Homo sapiens: one gene and its partner. The protein of the gene in region 1 purifies or fractionates together with the protein of each later gene. This does not show direct contact. Each region holds a gene or a part of one and is shown in the gene's direction. Other genes may lie near its edges.

What was found. Proteins that work in one complex are often made in the same cells at the same time.
Region 2: the proteins of ROR1 (region 1) and DOCK2 purify together in Homo sapiens (affinity purification with western blotting; one study listed by BioGRID). This does not show direct contact.

What each region holds. Positions count from the first base shown.
Region 1 is NC_000001.11:64,043,017-64,046,516, forward strand, and holds part of ROR1 (inactive tyrosine-protein kinase transmembrane receptor ROR1 isoform 1 precursor), read left to right. Parts: intron 1-3,500. UniProt on the Homo sapiens protein: Has very low kinase activity in vitro and is unlikely to function as a tyrosine kinase in vivo. Receptor for ligand WNT5A which activate downstream NFkB signaling pathway and may result in the inhibition of WNT3A-mediated signaling.
Region 2 is NC_000005.10:169,643,775-169,647,274, forward strand, and holds part of DOCK2 (dedicator of cytokinesis protein 2), read left to right. Parts: intron 1-3,500. UniProt on the Homo sapiens protein: Involved in cytoskeletal rearrangements required for lymphocyte migration in response of chemokines. Activates RAC1 and RAC2, but not CDC42, by functioning as a guanine nucleotide exchange factor (GEF), which exchanges bound GDP for free GTP.

The sequences.
Region 1 (3,500 bases):
TTTGATACCAAGACCCAGGCCCTAAACCTAATTGTGACTGGCTCCTCGGCTGACTGGCTGGGTTGCCATGGCAATGGACTGCTCAACTCTTTATATCTCAGTTTCTCTCACCTGTCAAAATGGGAATATAACACTTGGCCCCACCTTCCTCCCTGAGGAGAGATGGGGGCACTTTGAAAATTAAGTAATAAATGTTGGGAAGGATTTGTGGATTTGTGGATGTGACATCTTGTCAAGTGGGTAAATAATAAATGGGGTGTCTCCAAAGCTAATTTGCCTAAAATTCACTTGAGCCTTCCATTTACTTCATCAACCAGCGTTTATTAAATGCCTATGAAGTTCACAATAACACATGAAGTGCTGAGGGGAATACAAAAAATGTAAAAAGGAGGAAATAGAGTCTCAATTCCCAGAGAGGTCATAAAATAACTTTTTTCTTGCAGTTTGCTTTTTCTGGTTCATTAAGCCTCAGTACAGACCATGCCTGCACTGTATTTAAAAAGCTCATTCTCAATGATGACTTCCAGTTACGTCATAAGCAACTAGTGGTGATTTAGTTGTTTTCAGTACCAGTGGGTATTGTCACATGCTTGATGGACTCATAAAAAGGCAAGAATATTTTTTAGTTCAGGTTATGAGTGGTGCAAAGGACAATGAAAGACTACAGGTTGGATTGATTGGGAATCTGATTGCATCAGAACATAATATGGTCTCTGCTGTTCAAAGGCGTGGGTTTGGGTCCTGGCTCTGCCGCTTTCTGGCTGTGTGACTTTGGGAAATTCCTTAACTTCTCTGTGTCTCAGTTTCCTTATCTCTAAAATGTGGTCAGTTTTAGAGTCTACCTCATAGGATTGTTGTCAAGTTTAAATTAAAGTGTGTAAGATGCTCAGAATAGTGCCTGGCATTTTGTAAATGCTCAGAAAAATGTTAGCTATGATCATCACTTTCCATTGTTAATGGGAGAAGATGGTGGCACTAAAAGGATACTGGCATTTCATTTTCCTACATTGTAAAGGTAACAAATCCTTTTTAATTCAGAGTCCTAAACTTTTGCCCAGATCTGACACAATCGCTTGGGATTGCCCCAAAGCCCCAAACTGCTTGTTCGGAAATAGAAAACATGCCATCCAAGCCACTCTGCTCTCTGACTCATACCGTTCAGGGCCTGAGCTAACCCATTTTGTTCTGAAAGCCTTACACCAGTCTAGGACCCTGAGGGCTGGGAAAGGGCAGCTATGGAGTGTGATGGAAACAGCGCTGGGCTTGGTGTCCAAATCCTGGCTTTGCCTTTTATTAGCTGTGAACTCTGGGATAGGCTGTTAAGTCCTCTGAACTGCGGTTTACCCATCCTAATTGTGCAAAAGCAATGGTGGGTGAAACTGCTCAAACAAATTCAGACAATGGCACCAACGGTACCAAACTAGTGGTCACTGTACATTCCACTGCCATATACTTGTAGTTGAAAAGAAAAAAAAAGCCAATTGCACTTAAGAATATCTTCCATGGAGCAGTAAAAATTATTAATTGTATTAAATCTTGACCCTTGAATACATAGATTTTTAATATTTCATATGGCAGATGGGCAGTATACGTAAAGTACTCCTGCCAAGTACTATGACTGTCTCAAAGAAAAGCATTTGAGTTCTGAGCTGAACTAGCCACTTTTACTTTAAAGAATGACCGACAGAAAAATTATGGTTAGTTATTCTTGAATATTCTTTAAAATGAGGAAAATGAACCTGCCGCTTGAAGGAAACAGTAGTATTAATTGCCAATAATAAAATTTGAACTTTCCAGAAAAAGTTAGAATTTTGCGAAACTTTTAGCCACCATCACGAGCTTGACAACTTCTTCCCAATCATAACTGATGGCACTGGTGGTGATATTAATGCATTTGAATTTTCTATATTAGATAAGTAAGGGTGTCCACATTTTGAAAACGAACGTAACTCAGTAAACCAGTGTTCTCTAAACAGGCAATGCATGATGTTACAAAATCGTATGTAGGTAGAATAACCATTCAAAGTACAAGATAAATCAATCCATTATAATTTAATAGATTATGAAAAGTTTATTGATATGATTTCAGATTTCACATTGCAACCAACGTTTAAGAAACTACCACCTATCGAATTTTGGTGTAGTATCAAAGAAGAATATCCTAAATTATCTGAAAGACTATTAAAAACCCTTCCCTTTTCCAACTGTGCGAAGCCAGATTTTCTTCAACTAAAACAACATACCTCAACAGATTGAATGCTGAAACAGGAGGCTTCAGCTGTCTGGTTTTAAGACAATAATAGATATTCAATAATAAAAAAAAAATGCCACTTTTCTCACTATTTTTGGTATACGCGTGTGGAAAATATTATTTTACTAAATATTTTATTAAAATATTTATGTTAAGCAATGGGATTGTTTTTATTTTTAAATAGGTTAATAAACAAATATTTTAAAACTTTCTCCCCTCAGTGGCATCAATATTTTAAGGATTATCTAGGAGTCCTGAGACCAAAGAATTTGAGAACTTCTATCCTACAGCATGGACTCTGGAGCCAAAATAATTTGTTTAAAATCTCACTTCTACTTACTGTCTGTGTGATCTTGGACAACTTTCTTACCCTCTCTGTGCCTTACCCTCTCTGTTTTCCATGTGTAAAATGTTCATAACAATAACTGTCATGATGATAAATACCATTTAGGTGTTAGGTATTACCACCATCATTATGAAATCATTATTGTTGTCAGTGTCATCATCATCATTATTACTAGTATTAGCACTGGAAGGCATCATTTGTTCAGGGACACAGAGCTAGAGGTGGATTCAGTGGGACTGGAACTTTTCCCTTAAGCCAGACTATACCCTACCTCCCACTTACCATCTGCCATCTTGACATTTGCAGTCTAGGGAAGAAGGGAAAAAAAGATGAGAAATCTTCCATAGCTCAAGCACATATCATCAGAGCTACTGAATCAAACCATTGAAAAAGGTACAAACAGCCAGGTTTACACATAAAAGCCAGATTGCTTTGTCTGGCATTCAAGCTCACTGGACACCTGCTGCCTGTCATCCAGTTGTTCTGCAGCTGCCCATATAGAAACACAAACTGTCTCAGAAGAAGCAGACCCAACCCCAAAGGCCCAGATTATGAATCCAAAGCCCAGGGAGGTGAAGTGATGGTCTGACACACATCGCTAGAGAGTGGCAGAACTGCTACTTGAGTCTAGTGTGAATTCCCTCTGGACTGGACACCTTTGCTGGGATGCCCAGGTGTTCTCGTTCTGCTTACTAAGTAAGCAGCTACAGATGGCCAACAAATTTGAAACTTCTTCTTCGTCAGTGAAAAGTTAAAACCAAATTCCCTGTTTGTGGCAAGGCTCCTTTGTTCAGTAAACACAAAGATCTATTTACATTTCTTTTGTTCTCTCTGGAAACACACTGCTTGGGTCATCTACTACACTGATTTCAAGGTGCCCTGCAACCCTCATGTTGTTTTTAG
Region 2 (3,500 bases), on another chromosome or scaffold:
GGTGGACAGTATGACGTGCACACTGTCACGGCACAGGGTCTGAATGGGGTAATAGGCATTTGTTTGGTTGAATTAAATGGTGCAATGCCAGGCCTAGAGACACCCTGACTGACATGGTGGGCTGCAGCAGCAGGGCCATCCCAGTGTCAGCTGAACCTTGAGGGTTTGCCTGGAAAGTGGGTTTTTGCTGCTGGCTTCCCTGGCGGTGGCAGTCAGGGAAGGACCCTTCTAAGTAGAACGAATAGCCAATATAAAGAGGAGGAAGCCTCTCTGATGTGTGGGAGGCCAGTGTGGCTGCAGTAGAGTAAGCAAGATGCAAAGCAGTAAGGAATGGATTCTCTGAGAGAGGTCATAGGGAGCAGTGCCTCGTAGGTATTGTGAGGTCCTTGGCTTTTACTCTGAATGGGGGAGGGGGACATTGCAGGATTTGGAGTAGAATTGTAGGACGACCTGTCTTAAGTTTTAAGAGGATTGAACATAGCAGTTTTATGGTGCATTAATCAGGGGGAATTAAATGTGGAAGGAGAGGGACCAGTTAGGCAGCAACAGTGATAACTCAGGCCAAGAGATGGCGGTGGCTTGCAGCAGGAGGGAGCAGTGGAGACAGTGAGATATGCTTAGATTCGGGATGTATGTGTTGTAGGTCAAGCAAATGGGGTTTTCCTCTTGGAATGGATGTGGGTATGAGAAGGAGAGAGGAGCCAGTGGTGACTCCGAGGTTTCTGGTCTGAATAGCTAGAAGAATGAGGGCTGCATCGAGGCCTTCCCTAGTGAAAACCTTGATCTAAGTAGTCATCGACATTGGCATAAATCATGCCATTGCCTTACCTTTTGTACCACGGTACTTTTTTTTTTTTTTTTAATTTTACTGACAGTTCTGGGATACAAGTGCAGAACATGCAGGTTTGTTACGTAGGTATACATGTGCCATGGTGGTTTGCTGCACCTATCTTCCCGTCATCTAGGTTTTAAGCCCCATATGCATTAGCTATTTGTCCTAATGCTCTCCCTTCCTTGCAACTCCCCCACCCCCTGACAGGCCCCAGTGTGTGATGTTTCTCTCCCCGTGGCCATATGTTCTCATTGTTCAACTCCCACTTATGAGTGAGAACAGGCAGTGTTTGGTTTTCTGTTCCTGTGTTAGTTTGCTGAGAATGATGGCTTCCAGCTTTATCCCTGTCCCTGCAAAGGACATGATCTCATTTCTTTTTATGGCTGCATAGTATTCCATGGTATATATGTTGACATTTTCTTTATCCAATCTATCATTGATGGGCATTTGGGTTGGTTCCAAGTGTTTGTTGTTGTAAATAGTGCTGCGATAAACATACGTGTGCATATGTCTTTATAGTAGAATGATTTCTATTCCTTTGGGTATATACCTAGTAATGGGATTGCTGGGCCAAATGGTATTTCTCGTTCTAGATCCTTGAGGAATTGTTTTCCACAATAGTTGAACTAATTTACATTCCCACCAACAGTGTAAAAGTATTCTTATTTCTCCACAGCCTCACCAGCATCTATAGTTTCTTGACTTTTTAGTAATCGCCATTCTGACTGGCATGAGATGGTATCTCATTGTGCATTTCTCAGATGATCAGTGGTGTTGAGCGTTTTTTCATGTTTGTTGGCCACATAAATGTCTTCTTTCTAGAAGTGTCTGTTTATATCCTTTGTCCACATTTTGATGGGGTTGTTTGTTTCTTGTAAATTTGTTTAAGTTTCTTATAGATTCTGGATATTAGCCCTTTGTCAGATGAGTAGATTGCAAAAATTTTCTCCCATTCTGTAGGTTGCCTGTTCACTTTGATGATAGTTTCTTTTGCTGTGCAGAAACTCTTCAGTTTAATTAGATCCCATTTGTTAATTTTGGTTTTTGCTGCAATTGCTTTTGGTGTTTTTGTCATGAAGTCTTTGCCCATGCATATGTCCTGATTGGTATTGCCTAGGTTTTCTTCTAGGGTTTTAAATTTTTATTTATTTATTTTTTTGAGACAGAGTCTCACTCTGTCTCCCTGGCTGGAGTGCAGCGGAGCAATCTCGGCTCACTGCAAGCTCCACCTCCTGGGTTCACGCCATTCTCCTGCCTCAGCCTCCCGAGTAGCTGGGACTACACAGGAGCCCACCACCACGCCCGGCTAATTTTTTGTATTTTTAGTAGAGACGGGGTTTCACCGTGTTAGCCAGGAAGGTCTCGATCTCCTGACCTCATGATCCGCCCATCTCAGCCTCCCAAAGTGCTGGGATTACAGGCATGAGCCACCACGCCCAGCCTCTTCTAGGGTTTTTATGGTTTGGGATTTTACATTTAAGTTTGTAATCCATCTTGAGTTAATTTTCGTGTAAGATATAAGGAAGGGGTCCAGTTTCAGTTTTCCACATATGGCTGGCCAGTTTTCCCAGCACCATTTATTAAATAGGAGATCCTTATTCCATTGCTTCTTTTTGTCAGGTTTGTCGAAGATCAGGTGGTTGTAGATGCGTGGTGTTATTTCTGAGGTCTCTGTTCTGTTCCATTGGTCTATATATCTGTTTGAGTACCAGTCCCATAGCATGGTACATTTACAAAGCCCTTGTGTCATCATGTTTAGCCCTCACAGACACCCTAAGAAAAATAACTTCTGTCTTCATTTTGCAGGTGAGGAAACTGAGGCATAGATCTTTGAGGTCTCTCTGAAAATTCCCTCTATTTTATGGAAGTTGCCCCTTTTCACCTTGTCTTTTAGTTAGGTAACTGCATGTCATCTTCCCCACTAGCTGGTACATTGTTGGAGGGCAGAGCTGTATGGAGGGTTAACTTTGAGTCCATTCAGCATCACTGCAATAGCAGGAACGTGGTAGGTCAGAGAAACTAATCATTATTGTAGCATAGGTCCCATTGAGAATCCTGTGACCGCTAGAAACACACTTCTTCCCATTAAAATATGCACATGTGCAGTTCTGCATTGTAATGTCGCCAAAACTCATTCATGGAAGCCAGTTAAGGTCCCTGGCAAAATGTGCTTATTTTACTCTGTAACTATTTAGTAAACAAATACAATAGGTATAGCCAAAGCATTCTGCCTAAGGTTTGAATTCTTGAAGCCAGGAGCTTGTCAAGAGTCGGAAAACAATTCTTACAGTCTGTTCAGATCAATTAAGTTCAGTAAGCCTGTCCTGAGTGATGGTCCTTAGCTGGGTGTTTGGGCCCAGAGATGAATAAAACAGTTCGGGAAGCTTACAGTCCAGTCATAACCTCTCTTTCTGTATGAGGCAGCAGAGAGCACCATTATTAGTACTAATGTCCCCATTGGACAGGTTGGGGGCAGTGCCCCCTTTGCTTCATGTTACTAGAGCTGCCATCATCCCCTTCATACTTCCTTGCAGCCTCATGTTGAATGATCTGGGCACCTCTGTAGAATGCAAGCTCTATGATGGCAGGGCCATGTCTGTTGTTCTTCTTCAGCACAGAGCAGGTGCTCAGCGGCTGCTGATTGGATGGATGAAGAGGTGGATTCATA